Linked DNA regions of Homo sapiens. The protein of the gene in region 2 purifies or fractionates together with the protein of the main gene of each other region. This does not show direct contact. Each region holds a gene or a part of one and is shown on either strand. Other genes may lie near its edges.

The links. The genes of interacting proteins can lie anywhere in the genome.
Region 1: the proteins of SEC22C (region 2) and ABAT purify together in Homo sapiens (affinity purification with mass spectrometry; 3 studies listed by BioGRID and IntAct, with this or other methods). This does not show direct contact.

What each region holds. Positions count from the first base shown.
Region 1 is NC_000016.10:8,761,227-8,769,258, reverse strand, and holds part of ABAT (4-aminobutyrate aminotransferase, mitochondrial isoform 1 precursor), read right to left. Parts: intron 5,191-8,032; coding exon 5,110-5,190; intron 4,522-5,109; coding exon 4,429-4,521; intron 3,052-4,428; coding exon 2,989-3,051; intron 1,067-2,988; coding exon 1,003-1,066; intron 435-1,002; coding exon 286-434; intron 1-285. UniProt on the Homo sapiens protein: Catalyzes the conversion of gamma-aminobutyrate and L-beta-aminoisobutyrate to succinate semialdehyde and methylmalonate semialdehyde, respectively. Can also convert delta-aminovalerate and beta-alanine.
Region 2 is NC_000003.12:42,571,655-42,579,686, forward strand, and holds part of SEC22C (vesicle-trafficking protein SEC22c), read right to left. Parts: intron 1-8,032. UniProt on the Homo sapiens protein: May be involved in vesicle transport between the ER and the Golgi complex.

The DNA.
Region 1 (8,032 bases), on a different chromosome or scaffold from region 2:
TCTTATTTTAGAGTCATTGACTCTTGTCTTCCAAGAAACTTAAGTGATACAGAAATTGGTATCAGAGTTGGGTGATGGATGCTGTGACAGAAACAGTGTGTCTCACGAACTCTCCCAACATAGAACATTTGGGACGCAAGGCCTCTGTGTCCCTGCTTCCCTCTGGGGGAGCACTGCACAGATCCCCAGATAAACCCTTCATCTGTTTCTCTTCTCCCCAAGTCTTGGGGCGGCAAGAGCAACAGGACTGGTGGTTGGGGAGGATCCGCAGGGTATGAGCATTACCTCTTCCAGACAGCGGGCCTCCTCCTGTTGGTTCTCTTTCACAAACTCTTCCAGAGGGTATTTCAGCCGTGGGAACGGTGCGATGGGCCAGTCAAAGGAAGGGATGTCGATCTTGTGAATGGCTTTAGAGTGCGTGGTCGCTAAGCAACCTGAGTTCAGCAAAACAGAAAAGCAGACGCTTGGCTTGGGGAAGCAGGCAGTACCGTCTTTGTAAAGGAGATGATAGACATTTCAGCGCAAGGCTGTCAGTGGGCAGGGAGGCCTGTTGCCTGTGAAACCCCAGTTCTTTTTATCGTTTAATTTTTAATTTTTCTGGGTGCATAGGAGGTGTATATACTTGGGGAGTACATGAGATGTTTTGATACTGAACCCCAGTTCTCATCCGGAAGCTGAAGGGGGACTCTCGAACCCTTAATTGGCATGCGTGCGTGGGTATGTGTTTGCATTGCGATTAATCACAGATGCAGCGCAGGCTTTGAAGACAGAGTCAAGAGTTCCAGTCCCGGCTCTGTCACTGAATAGCCTTGGAAATTCTTCCTCTTCCTGAACACTGATTCCCCCATCTGCAAAGCAGGAATAATAATCCCCACTCTGCAGTGGGATTGTGTGCAATCAGTGGGACAATATGTGTAAACTGCTAATGTCAGCCGCCGCTATTGTTGCCGTTATTATTACTATTCTAAACGCCACCTTGGGAGCGCAATGGTCCCTCCTTACCCATGGTCCTCCCATGGAACGCGCCCATGAAGGAGAGGATGCTGTAGTCGGGGCAGCCAGGGGCCTAAAACCAAGAAATATCAGTCATTAGTCATAGTTGTAAGGATGGGGGAACTGTATTGTTGCCCCTGCAAGTCCAGAGGGACACAGAAATCTATCAGAAGAACCAGGAATCCTTCTCAGGCAAAAGTTACCCATGGGACCAATGGGGTCTATATCCAAGACACACGTTTTATTTGCATACATACTTACATTTTTTTTTTTTTAAGTCACAAATTTTAGGCTGGGTGTGGTGGCTCACACCTGTAATCCCAGCACTTTGGAAGGCTGAGGCAGGCGGATCATCGGAGGTCAGGAGTTTGGGATCAGCCTGGCCAACATGGTGAAACCCCGTCTCTACTAAAAATACAAAAATTAGACAGGCATGGTGGTGGGGGCCTGTAATCCTAGCTACTTGGGAGGCTGAGACAGGAGAATCGCTTGAACCCGGGAGACAGAGGTTGCAGTGAGCCGAGTTCGCGCCACTGCACCCCAGCCTGGTCAACAAGAGCGAGACTCTGTCTCAAAACAAGTTGCAAAATTTAAAACTAAGAAATTTCACATAGAGACCTGAACTTCTGGCTTCTCACCAGTGCTGCACTGTTTGGACCCATTTTCCTCCTGTGGCAGCTGTAAGTGGCCAAGCAGTACCCACTGCCCGCCTACCTCCAGCTGCTGGGGACTCCTGGGTTTTCAGCCCCTTTTCTACAGGCTCTTCAACTTCCTCCCCATCCCCTGGCTCCCTACTACTCAGGCCTCCTCAGGTGTCAGGCGGGTCAGGTGCTGATGGGTGCACGCCTGCATCCCAGGGTGACCAAGGCAAGGGGCCGAGCTGGGCACCTTGCAGGAAAACCCCCAGGCCTTTGGAAGGGGTCTGTGGTGCTAGAAAGCGGGTGAGGGGAGCCCCTCTCCGGGCACTCTCCCATGGCAGCTGCGCCTTGGGTTCAGGAGGGGTGCATGGACGCCCTGTCCCTTTCCAGCCCCAAGCAAATGGCACAGCTGCAACTCCTTGCATTGTTTTCTGACTCTTCACCCAGCAAGGGAATCCAAACATGTTTCCAGCTGATTCAGGCAGAACTGCTGGAGGTGCCTCAGAGGGAACTGTGGGGGCCCCCAAGTCTCAAGGAGGTTGGCATTGTCTCAGGCTGGTTGAGCACCAATTCCCTGAGACCTCTGGGAAAAACCCTAAGAACTCCTCCCACAGATTCCAGAAACCCTCTTGTACTTTTTTTGTTTTGTTTTGTTTTTGAGATGGAGTCTTGCTCTGTCGCCAGGCTGGAGTGCAGTGGTGAGATCTCGGCCTACTGCAACCTCCGCGCCCGTCGGGTTCAAGCGATTCTCCTGCCTCAGCCTCCCGAGTAGCTGGAATTACAGGTACCCGCCACCACATCTGGCTAATTTTTGTATTTTTAGTAGAGACAGGGTTTCGCCATATTGGCCAGGCTGGTCTGGAACTCCTGACCTCGGGAGATCCACCCGCCTCGGCCTCCCAAAGTGCTGGGATTACAGGCGTGAACCACAGCAGCCGGCCTTTTGTTTTTGTTTTTGTTTTTTTGTTTGTTTTGAGAGGAGTCTCACTCTGTCACCCAGGCTGGAGTGTAGTGGTGTGATCTCGGCTCACTGCAACCTCCACCTCCTGGGTTCAAATGATTCTCCTGCCTCAGCCTCCCAAGTAGCTGGGATTACATGCATGTGCCACTATGCCCGGGTAATTTTTGTCTTTTTAGTAGAGATGGGGTTTCACCATATTAGCCAGGCTGGTCTTGAACTCCTGACCTTGGGTGATCCGCCTGCCTTGGCCTCCCAAAGTGCTGGGATTACAGGCATGAGCCACCGCGCCTGGCCTGGCCCTTCCTAATTGAGGACAGTGCCAGCCAGCCAGCAACAGCCCGGGAGAGGCTGTGCAGCTTCCCCAGATGTACGTGGTGCAAGCCCAGCTGCACTCACCTGGTTAATCATGCACGTCTCCAGCTCCTCCTGGGAGAAGCCCCTCTGCCCTCTTTCCTTGCTCTGAAACAATAGAACAGAACAAAATCTCAGAGATGCTCTGGGGTAGTCGGGGCTTCATCTTTCCAACCAAACCGATATTCAGTCCAGACAAGTAGAAAGTGCTTTCTCAGGAGTGGATCTCATGTATTAATTGTTGCAGGTCTGTACTGAAACGTGAGGCTACCAACTGTGCTCGCAACAAAAGAAACTAACACACATAATGCATTAAGCACCATCAGCAACGATTAAGATCTGTTGGATTAAGATCTGCTGAGAGCGTTGCATGTTTTGCCAGGAAGAATGGAGGCCAGATGTGCGGGCTCAAATCTGTAATCCTAGTACTTTGGGTGGCTAAGACAGGAGGATTGCTTGAGGCCAAGAGTTTGAGACCATGCTGGGCAACAAAGTGGGACTCTGTCTCTGCAATTTAGAATATTTAAATAAATTTAAATTTAAATATTTAAATAAAATAACCTAGAGGCACAACCCAGAGACCTTGGCTTGCCTGGAAGGGTTTTTTTTGTTTTTGTTTTCGTTTCTGTTTTTGTTTTTTTACAGGGTCTTGCTCCTTGCTCTTGCTGTGTCTCTCAGGTTGGAGTGCAGTAGCATGATATCAGCTAACTGCAGCCTCGACCTCCCAGGCTCAAGTGATCCTCCCACCTCAGCCTTCCAAGTAGCTGGGACAACAGGCAGGCACCACCGCACCCAGCTAATTTTTTGTATATTTTATAGAGACGGGGTTTCACCATGTTGCCCAGGCTGGTCTTGAACTCTTGGACTCAAGTGATCTGCCTGCCTCAGCCTCCCGAAGTGCTGGGATTACAAGTGTGAGCCACTGTGCCCAACCTTGGAGGGGAATTTAAGGAGCATTTTCTTCTTCTTTTTTTTTTTTTGAGACAGGGTCTTACTCTGTCACCCAGGCTGAAATGCAGTGGCACAACCATGGCTCACTGCAGCCTTGACCTCCCAGGCTCAAGCAATCCTTCCACCTCAGCCTCCAGAATAGTTGGGACTACAGGCATGCGTCACCATGCCTGGCCAATTTTTGAATTTTTTTTTAGTAGAGATGGGGTTTCGTCATGTTGCCCAGGCTGGTCTCGAGCTCCTGGGCTCAAGTGATCTGCCCGCCTTTGCCTCTCAGAGTGTTGGGATTACAGGTGTGAACGACTGCGCCCAGCCCCCATTGCATAGTTTTGATGCCAAAGCCTCAGCCCTCTGCACCATACCCCACTGTGCCGTCTCAAAGTACCATCCAGCAGTGGCCCTCCCTGTATTTTAACCCTGGTACTGATGTCTAATACTCCAGCCCATTGGAATGAACAGTCAGACAAGGGGTGAGCGTGTGGCTGGGTGCTGGGGAGCCTGTGTGTGTGTGTGTGTGTGTGCCCCAAACCTCACCCGGTACCACATGAAGATGGTCTTTAAGGCGTTTTCATTGGAGCAGGAGCCGCAGGCCATGGTGATGAGCTGGGACATCCCTTTGGGAGCCACCTGTGGGGAGGGAAATAGCCGTGAGCCCAGGCTCATCATGACTCCTGTCCTCCCGCTTCCCCTGGCTGGAGCTGAATCTTCGCAGGGGCCGTACCGGGGACAGACAGAACCAGGGCTGTCCTGGAAGGTGTCGGACTGGGAGGGTGGGCTCAGGCTTTTCCAGGGGTGGCGGAGAAGCCCAGGGAGGCCCTGAGGCTGGCAGAGAGGAAAGAAGGGGGGCAAAAGCCCACTCCTGATGCACCTGCCACTGTCTAAGACACCTACACGTTCCAGGCGGGACGTTGAGGCTCCCAATGGCTTTAATCGTTTGTAGTAACTAAAACCGAGAAGTGGGGGCAGGATTGAATGACATATGCAAGGCTCCTATCATGCGACACATATTCATTTCCCCAGCTCCTTTTGTCCTGCACACAAAGAATCCCTTCTGTCCTTTAAAAGAAAAATTTAAAATACTCTGCATGGAAGAATAAGCTCAGAGAGAAAGATTTCTGTAGCAACACCTTATTCTTCATTGTTGGCGTCTCCACTTTTCCCTTCCCCTGCCAGTACCACGTCTGAAGACAATGGGATTGCTTCTCCAGAACTCACCGAGAGCAAGGACTGCCGGAGCTTCTCCACAAAGTTCTCCGGAGGCAGGATTCCGAGGGCGGGTCTGTTGACAAACATGCTCTGCAAAAGGGCAAGAGACAAATGGTGACTTCTGGGGGCCTGACCCAGCTCCCTGCCCACAAATGGTGCTTTTCATAGCCCCTGTGTTCAAATAGCCTCCAAATGGGGTTGCAGGATGATGACGTTCTGTCAGCGTGGGGCATGGCCGGTTTCCTTAAACCTTTAGAGAAATCCACTAGGATTGCTGTGGATGTTTTAAAAAAGGGTCAGTGTCCTGGTTGCCATATTGCATTGGCGTTATATAGGATGCTACTGCCGCTGGGGAAAACTGAGCGAAGCGTACATGGGGCTCTTTGTACTGGTTTTTGCAACTTCCCGTGAGTCTCTTTCTTTATATATTTAACCATCAGAATGGCTAAAAAACAGGCAGAGTGCAGTGCCTCACGCCTGTAATCCCTGCATTTTGGGAGGCCGAGGCGGATGGATTGCTTGAGGCCAGGAGTTCGAGACCAGCCTGGCCAACATGGTGAAACCTTTTCTCTGCTAAAAATACAAAAAGGGACTTTTGGAGTAGAGAAAGAGTGTCTTGGGCAAAATCAGTGTAATGCACTCAGTGCAAATCCAAAAACCAGCATCACTGTATAGGACACCCTAAGGGCAGAGGGGTTCCCAGAGATGATTCTCCCAGTAGCTTTAGGACTTGACTTGTGCTGCTAGAAACTGGCAGATTCCTACCTCTTGCTTTTTCTGCTTCACGATCACTCAGTTGGGTCTAGGATAAGTAGTGAGGGAAGTTAATTGTCCTCATTGTAGAGTTGGGGGAACTGAGGACCAGAGAGGTCAAGCAACTTGCCCCAAGTCACACAGCCAAGAAGGGGCAGAACCACAACTCGGATCTAGGTTTACTGACTTTAGATGCCACTCTCTGTCAGATACTCCAGGTAGCCTCTGCCCGAAAATGCTCATGCTTGGCACAACCCAGAGACCTTGGCTTGCCTGGAAGGGCTTTTTTTTTTTTTTTTTTGTTACAGGGTCTTGCTCTCTCAGGTTGGAGTGCAGTAGCGTGATATCAGCTTACTGCAGCCTCAACCTCCGAGACTCAAGTGATCCTCCCACCTCAGCCTTCCAAGTAGCTGGGACTACAGGCACATGCCACCGCACCCAGCTAATTTTTTGTATTTTTTTATAGAGACAGGGTTTCGCCATGTTGCCCAGGCTGGTCTTGAACTCTTGGACTCAAGTGATCTGCCTGCCTCAGCCTCCCAAAGTGCTGGGATTACAAGTGTGAGCCACTGTGCCCAACCTTGGAGGGGACTTTAAGGAACATTTCCTTCTGGCTCTGACCTGTTAGTGGGGCTCCTAAGAAATCACATCATGAGAATAGGGTGGAAGCAAGCTGGCCCTCACTAGCAGCAGGGAAATGGCTCCCAGAAGGGTAGGGCTGGCTGGCAGCTTGACAGCCGTCTGGGTCTAGGAACGACGTGGGGGTGATGTTCTTGCTCGAGAAAGCGTGACATTAAGAACAGAAGATATCTGGGACATTGGGTATCAGGATCAAATGAGGATAGCTTTCTAAACCCTTGCAGTCAGCTCAACAGGCTTAGGGTACAGCATGAAGATAATTGGCTTTGGCTTAAGTGGCTGTGCAACCTTGGGCAACTCACTTAACCTCTCTGAGCTTTGGGTTTCTCATCTGCCAAACTGGAGACTCTTCACTAGGTGCTTGTAAGAAGCCAGTGAGATGATATGGCATACAGAGGATGCAGGAGTTCAGTCTCAAAGGAAGAGTTATGCAGAGGGAAAGACCCAGAGGTCATAGGATGGCAGGTGTCTTACTTGGTCAGGCCTGCTGTGCTATGTGCATTCATTGCAATGTGACTGTGCACATGCAATGTCCATGATTATTGTATAACTTGTTGGCAATGTAATGAGATGGGCCTGGTGACATAAGAAATAGTAACTGGAGGTCGGGCACAGTGGCTCACGCCTATAATCCCAGTCACTTAGGAGGCTGAGGTGGGAGGATCTTTTGAGTCCAGGAGTTCGAGGCTGCAATGAACTATGATCCAGCCACTCCACTCTAGCCTGGGTGACAGAGAGAGAAAGAAGAAAGAAGAAGAAGGAGAAGAAGGAGAAGGAGAAGGAGAAGGAAGAAGAAGGAAGAAAGAAGAAGAAAAAAGAAATCATAATTGGAATCCAGATATTAGATCTAAGGGACATGGTTTCATTTTTAGGAAGTCACATGAAGTAATTATGGTGGAGTTTCAGGGTGGTTTGGTTTGGGTGCAAAAAGGTTGATAAACCCCTTCTTGGGACTTTGGTGACCTGGCAGGAACCTGCCCTGTACAAGCAGAATACCATTGCCACCACCTGAGTGCATCTCCAGCCAAAAATGCGGAAGACCCAAGATGTCAGCCAGTGGTGCCCCGGCCTACTGCCCTGGGCATGTCCTGCTGGAAACCTTTTAGCCCGTGGAGGTCAGCTGCCACCTCTCTAAGACTGCGTCAGGGTGCTCTTTTCATCAGGCCTCAAACCCAGTTCCTCTGCAGAACAACCCAACCCAGACTGGGACGGAGAACGTGGATTCACCATCAAATCCCAGCACCAAAAAGAGTGCTTGGCACATTGGAAGCATTCAGTCAATAACCAATGAATGAGCAAATGTCAAGTAATAAGGCTAAAGAAGAAAGTGGGAGGCAGCCCTCCAAGGGCTTAGCATTTGAGGTGGAGGAGACTGGGACACAGCCGGAAGGCAGTAAGTACCAGGGAAGGGTTCCACACGCGGCACAGTTTGGTGGACGGTTTGGAGGGGGTGAGAAGGGAGGTGGGAGGGATCGATGGGGAGAGGTTGCTGGCAGAAAGCCAAGTGGGAGATGTGAGGGTTAGGACCAGTCCCTGACGA
Region 2 (8,032 bases):
ATTTGTGAATTCAGGTTATGAGCTATTATGAGACAGCCTGTACTCAAATAAGAGATCTGACCACTGCTCAAAACAGAATGAACTTCTGCTTCTGGAAAGATGAAGTAGAAGTACTTTTCCCTACTTCTCCCTTGAAATACCCTGGACATTATATATAAAATAAACATTTAAAAATTCTGACCAGCCTGGCCAACATGGCGAAACCCCGTCTCTACTAAAAATACAAAAATTAGCCGGGCGTGGTGGCACACACCTGTAATCCCAGCTACTCAGGAGGCTGAGGCACGAGAATCGCTTGAATCCGGGAGGGAGAGGTTACAGTGAGCTGAGATTGTGTCACTGCACTCCAACCTAGGTGACAGAGTGAGACCCTGTCTCAAAAATAAAAATAAAAATTCTGAAAGGTGGAGAAGGAAGAAGACTGGCTAGGGACCTTGGGGTCTGAGGAATGACACAGCTGTGAGTCTGCTGAGTTTGTTTTTTCTTATTTGTTTGTTTGTTTGTCTCACATATCACAGACTGAGTGGTGGAGAAGCTAGCAAGAAATGCCAATGGGTACAGACCAAAAAAAAAAAAAAAGCCAAAAAAACTTTGTTCTCTCCAGTCAAAAAAACTAGAAAAGGTAATGCATAGCAAAACAAAAAACTTGCAGGTAAAAAACTGCTCTACTCCAGCCAAACATCACAAAAAAACTGTAGCTACCACACACCTGCCAACGAAGGCCAAGTGAAGAGCCTAGACTTCCACCACTGCCCTACAGTAATGAAGTGCCCCATTCTCCACCTCCCATCCTGCCGGGGTAGCATCAGAGAAGGCCAAGTAGGGGGCTAGAGGGCAGTAATGAGCCATTCTCTCCCACTGTGTCACTGGGTAGACAGAATTCCTATCTCTCCCAGGCAATGATGAGCAGCCCCTTTCCCCCAGGGTGTTAACAGAGGCCACGTAGGGAACCTGGACTTCTACTTCCATTGGGCAGTAATAAGACAGTCCCTTGCTTCCCCTGCTGGAGTGGTGTTCAGAAGGGCCAGCTAAAACAGAAGATTTTAGTAAGATTCAGATCTCAAAACATCCAAAATGTAAGTTTCAATAGAAAATCACTGGCTATACTAAGAACCAGAAAAACCTCAGCTTCAATGAGAAGAGACATTAATTGATGGCAACATCAAGATGACAGAGATATTAGAATTATCTAACAAAGAGTTTAAAACAGCCACCATAAAAATGCTTCAATGGTCAATTATAAACTGTTTCCCAGGCTAGAATACAGCAGTGCAATCATGGCTCACTGCAGCCTCGATCTCCAGGGCTCAAGCAATCCTTCCACCTTAGCATTCTGAATAGCTGGGAATACAGGCACACACCACTACTTTTTTTTTCTGTAGACACAGGGTCTCGCTATGTTGCTCAGGCTCATCTTGAACTCTCAGGCTCATGTGATCCTCCCACCTCGGCCTCTCAAAGTGGCGGGATTATAGGGGTGAGCCACCACACCCAGCCACTTTTAAAAAATGAAAAATAAAAACTCTCAGTAAAGAAACAGAAGATATAAAAACTAAATGGAGATTCTAGAATTAAAAATAAACCGAGGAGGCCAGGCACGATGGCTCATGCCTGTAATCCTGGCACTTTGGTAGGCCAAGGCAGGTGGGTCACTTGAGGTCAGGAGTTCGAGACAGCCTGGCCAACACAGTAAAACCTCGTCTCTATTAAAAATACAAAAATTAGCCGGGCATGGTGGCACACACCTGTAGTCTCAGATACTTGGGAGGCTGAGGCAGGAGAATCGCTTGAATCCGGGAGGCTGAGATGGCAGTGAGCCAAGATCACACCACTGCACTCCATCCTGGGCTACAGAGCGAGACTCCGTCAAAAACAAAAAAACAAAAAACAAAACTGAGGCCAGGTGCAGTGGCTTACATCTATAATCCTAATGCTTTGGGAGGCCAAGGCAAGAGGATCACCTGAGACCAGGAGTTTGAGACCAGCCTGGGCAACATAATGAGACCCCCATCTGTATGAAAATAAATAAAGTAATTAATTAACTAAAGTAAAAAATGCAATGGATGGACTCAATAGAAATATGGGGGGGAGGAGAAGAATGAATGAGTAAACATTAAGACAGAACATAGAAATTACTCAATCTGAACAATATGAGAGGAACTAGATTGAAAAATATTTCACAGAGACTTGGAGACCTGTGAGACTCTAAAAAATGACCAACTATTCATGTTACTTGAGTCCTGGAGGACAAAAGAAAGAAGACAGGGCTGAAAAAGTATTCAAAGAAATAATTTCTGAATATTTCCCAAACTGTGCAAAAGACATAAGCCCAGAGATTCAAAGAAACTGAACAAATCCCAGAAAGGATAAACCCAGAAACCCATGCCAGCACACAGACAGAAGCCCAACTTATGAAAACTAAAGACAAAGAAAAAATCTTGAAAGCAGCAAGAGAAAAATAATAACCTTACCTATAAGGGGAAAACAATTCAAATGACAGCAAATTTCTCATAGAAAACATGGAGGCCAAAAGGAAGTAGCACATTTTTCAAATACTAAAAGAAAAGAACTGCCAACCCAGAATCCTGTATTCAGCAAAAATATCCTTCAAGCAGCCAGGTGCAGTGGCATGTGTCTGTAGTCCCAGCTATACTGCTTGAGCCCCAGGAGTTCAAGTCCAGCCTAGGCAACATAGCAAGACCCTGTCTCAAAAAAAAAAAAAAAAAAAGGAATAAAAGAAAAATTAAAGCATACTTAGATGAAGGAACATTAAAGGAATTTGTCAAGAAGTTCTCTAAACAGAAAGGAAATGATAAAAGAAGAAATCCTGGAATATCAGGAAGAAAGAAAGAACAACAGAAAGGGTAAAAACTTTTAAAAATATGACAGATTATTCTCTCATGAGTTTTCTAAATTATGTTCGGTGAATGAAGCAATAATTATGTCTCATGTGGTTCTCAACATACGTAAAGGAACTATTTAAGACAATTATAAATGGGAGGGTTCAAAGACATAAAAGGAGGTAAAGTTTCTACATTTCATTTGAAATAGTAAAACACATCAGGAGACCACAACAAGTCATACACATACTCACACACAAACACATATACACCCCACTAAAAACTATACAAAGAGATATACTAAAAAACACTATAGATTATAAAATGAAATTATTATTTTTTGAGACAGGGTCTCACTCTGTCACCCAGTCTGGAACGCAGTGACACAATCATGGCTCACTGCTGCCTCAACCTCAAGTCATCCTTCTGCCTCAGCCTCAAGACTCAAGTGATCCTTCTGCCTCAGCCTCCCAAGTAGCTGGGACTACAGACATGTACCGTTATACCCAGCTAATTTTTTAAAAGATATATTTTGTACAGACAGGATCTTGCTATGTTGCCACAGCTGGTCTTGAATTCCTGGTCTCAAGCAATCCTCCCATCTCAGCTTCCCAAAGTACTGGGATTACAGGCATGAGCCACTAGGCCTGGCCTAAAATGTAATTATTTTAAAATGTTCAAATTACCCACAAGAAGTCAAGGAAAAGAAAACAGAGAAATAACAACAATGGCAACAACAAACAGAACAAACACAAAACAAAAAAGGGCAGACTTATTCCCTAATATATATCAATGATTACATTAAATGTAAATGGTCTAAATATGACAATTGCCAAAACAGAGACTGACAGTAGATAAAAGACATGACCCAATTATATACTATCTACATGAAATTCACTTCCAGTATAACAATATAGGTAGGTTGAAAGTAAATGGATGGAAAAAATATAGCATGCAAACATTAATCAAAAGAAGCAAGAGTTATATTATCATCAGATAGACTTCAGAGTGAAGAAAATGTCCAGGAACAAAGAAGGATATTACATAATGATAAAAGAATAAGTCCACTAAGAAGGCATAATAATCCTGAATGTGTTTGCACCAAACTTCAAAGATGTAAATAAGTGAAGCAAAAACTCATAAAGTGAAAGGAGGAACAGACAAATCCATAGTTATAGCTGGAGACTTCAATCAACTGCACCTCAAAAATTGATAAGACAAGTAAACAGAAATCAGCAAAGATTTACAAAAAGAACTAGAAAACACTATCAACTAAAGGATATAATCATGATTTATAATATTGCATCCAACAACAGAAGAATTCCTTTGAAGACCCCACAGAATAGGCTGGACACAATGGCTCATACCTGTAATCTCAGCCCTCTGGGAGGCCGAGGTGGGAGGATTGCTGAGGACAGGAGTTTAAGTCAAGAAACCACAGAATGTCTACCAAGATAGACCATATCCTGGACTATAAGACAAAACTCAATAAATTTAAAATAATTTATACAAAGTGTGTTATATGACCACAGTGTAATCAAATTATAAATTAATAACAGAAAGGTAAAGAAAACCTCCAAACACTTGAAAATTAAACACACACTTTAAAACAATCCGTAAGTTAAAAAGGAAATATAAAGGAAATTAAAAAAATACATTGAACTAGATGAAAATGAAAATATATCAAAATTTGTGTCACACAGCTAAAACAGTACCGAGAGGGAAATCCATAGCACTAAATGCTTACATTCCAAAAGAAGAAAAGTCTCAAAACAGTAATTTAAGCTCACAAGTCAAGAAATTAGAAGAAGAGCAAAATAAACTTAAATCACAAACATGGAAGGAAATAATAGGATAGAAATCAATGAAATGGAAAATTTTAAAAACAGAGAAAAATCAATGAAACAAAAAGTTGGTCCTTTGGACAGAGTGATACTTCATCTAAAAAAAATTACATTTCTATATACGAACAATGAACATATAGAAACCAAAATTTAAATACCATTTATAATCACTCTAAAAAATAATATCAATAAAGCTATAATTTTTTAAATAAAATACTTAGATATAAATCTAACAAAACATATACAGAACTTGTATGCTGAAAACTACAAAATATTCCTGAAATCAAAGTGCTAAATAAATGGGGAGATATATCATGTTTTATGGATTGGAAGAGTCAACAAAGCAAAGATGTCAATTCTCCCCCAAACTGATATACAGGTTTAATACAACTACTGAAAAAAAAAAATAAGCAAGCGAGTTTGTGGCTATAGATAAGATTATTCTAAAATGCGTATGAAAAGGCAAAGAAACTAAAATAGCTAAAGCAATTCTGAAAAAAGAATAAAATAGGAAAAACCATGCTATCCTACTTCAAGACTTATTATATAGCTATAGTAATCAAGATTGTGTGGTATTGTTGGAGGAATAGACATAGATCAATGAAACAGAATACAGAACCCAAAAATATACTTACATAAGTATATCTAACTGATTTTTTACAAAGTGCAAAAGTAATTTAAGGGAGGAAGGGTAGTCTTTTCTATAAATAGTGCCGGGAGTAAAAAGAAAGAATCTTGACCTAAACCTCACATCTTACATAAAAATTAACTAAAAATTTATCATAGATATAAATATGAAAAATAAAACTATAAAACTGGAAGAAAACATAGGAGGAAATCTTCAGGACCTATGACTTGGTGAGGAGCTCTTAGATATGACACCAAAAGCATAATCCATAAGATAATTCGGAAAACTGGACTGCAACAAAATTGAACACTTTTCAATTTTGCTTCTCTAGGAAAGCCCATGTGAAGAGGATGAAAAGACAAGCTAGAAATTGGGAGAAAATATCTGTAAACCACATATCTGATAAGCAACTCAAATCTAGAATGTATAAAGAACTCTTGAAATTCAACAGTGAAAAAACACAAACAATCCAATTTTAAAATGGGAAAAACACACATACAGACATTTCACAAAGAGGATATATGGATGGCAAATCAGAGCATGAAAAGATATTGAGCTATTATGAAAATGCAACTTGAGACCCCAATGAGATAATACTACCTACCCATCAGAACAGCTAAAATGATAAATAGTGACAGTATCAAACACTGGCAAGCATGGAGACAAACTGGATCTCTCATGCATTACTGGACTGTAAAATGGTATACTCTAGAAAAGTCTGGGCCAGGCGCAGTGGCTCATGCCTGTAATCCCAGCACTTTGGCAGGCTGAGGTGAGTGGATCACCTGAGGTTAAGGGTTCGAGACCAGCCTGGCCAACACGGTGAAACCCCATCTCTACTAAAAATGCAAAAATTAGCTAGGCATGGTGGTGGGCACCTATAATCCCAGCTACTTGGGAGGCTGAGGCAGGAGAATCACTTGAACCTGGGAGGCGGAGGTTGCAGTGCGCCAAGACTGCACCATTGCACTCCAGCCTGGACAACAGAATGAAATTTCATCTCAAAAAAAAAAACAAAAACAAAACACAGTTTGGCAGTTTCTTTTAAAACTAAACATGCAATTATTGTACAATCTACCAATCACACTCCTGACATTTATCCCAGAGAAATAAAAATTTGTGTCTACACGAAAACCTCTGTACAATTGCTCATTGCAGCTTTATTTATAACAACCAAACCTGAAAACAACCAAAATGTCCTACAAATAGTGAATGGTTAAACAAACCGCAGTATATTCATTCCATGGAATACTACTCAGCAAAGAAGAAGAATAAACTATGGTCCTGGTACACAGAACAACTTGAATGGATCTCAAGTGCATTATGCTTGGTTATAAAAAGCCCGTATCAAAAGGTTATATACAATATGCATCCTTTTACGTAACATTCTTGAAATGACAAAATTATAGAAATGGAGGGCTGATAAACAGTTGTCAGAGGTTAGGGATGGTAGAGAGGAAGGGAATGGGTGTGACTATGAATGAACAGCCAAAGGCATCTGGTGATGGAATAATTCTGTATCTTGATTGCGGTGATGATTACAGGAATCTACACACGATAAAGTGACAGTACTACACACACACACACACACACACACACACACACTTTATACCAACATCAATTTCCTGGAGTTGCTGTTTACTAGAATTATATAATATGTAATCAATGGGGAAAACTAGGTGAAGGGTACATGAGACTTCTCTGTACTATATTTGCAAATTCCTGCAACTATAATTATCTTAAAATAAAAGCTGGAAAAAAGTATTAACTTAAGATCCTCATGTACTGGTTACTTAAATTATGCTAATACTTTTTTGTTTAAATATAATTTTTAAATATCCCCACCAATATCTTATCTGCTAATTAACTGTAATTTTGATGTTTTATGCATGAACACTGAAGGGCACACTTTATAGTGAATAGCTCCTTTACTACATCACATTTCTAAACTGGAAGGTACTATAATCTCAGGACTCTTTGAAATAAAGCTGCTCAAAGACAACTAGTATTCAACTTAAAACAGGAAAGCGGCTGGGTGCAGTGGCTCATGCCTGTAATCCCAGCACTTTGGGAGGCAGAGGCAGGTGGATCACCTGAGGTCGGGAGTTCGAGAACAGCCTGACCAACATGGAGAAACCCCGTCTCTACTAAAAATACAAAATTAGCTAGGTATGGTGGTACATGCCTGTAATCCCAGCTATTCAGAAGGCTGAGGCAGGAGAGTCACTTGAACCCAGGAGGCAGAGGTTGCAGTCAGCTGAGATTGTGCCATCACACTCCAGCCTGGGCAACAAGAGCAAAACTCCATCTCAAAACAAAACAAAACAAAACAAAACAAAAAACTAGGAAAGCAGGCTGAGCATGGTGGCTCATACCTGTCATCCCAGCATTTTGGGAGGCTGAGGCGGGAGGACTGCTTGAGTCCAAGAATTTGAGACCAGCCTGGGCAACACAATGACACCCCATCTCTACAAAAAAAAAAAAAAAAAGCCAGGCATGGTGGCACACACCTGTGGTCCCAGCTACTTGGGAGTCTGAAGTGGGAGGATCACTTGAGCTCAGGAGGTCAAGGCTGCGTGAGCTGCGACTGCATCACCGCACTCCAGCCTGGGCAACAAAGTGAGACCCTGTCTCAAAAAACAAAAAAAAAAAAAAGAAAAGAAAAAAGAAAAGAAAAGAAAATCAATTCCACAAGGACAAAGGCAGCTTCAGAATGTTCA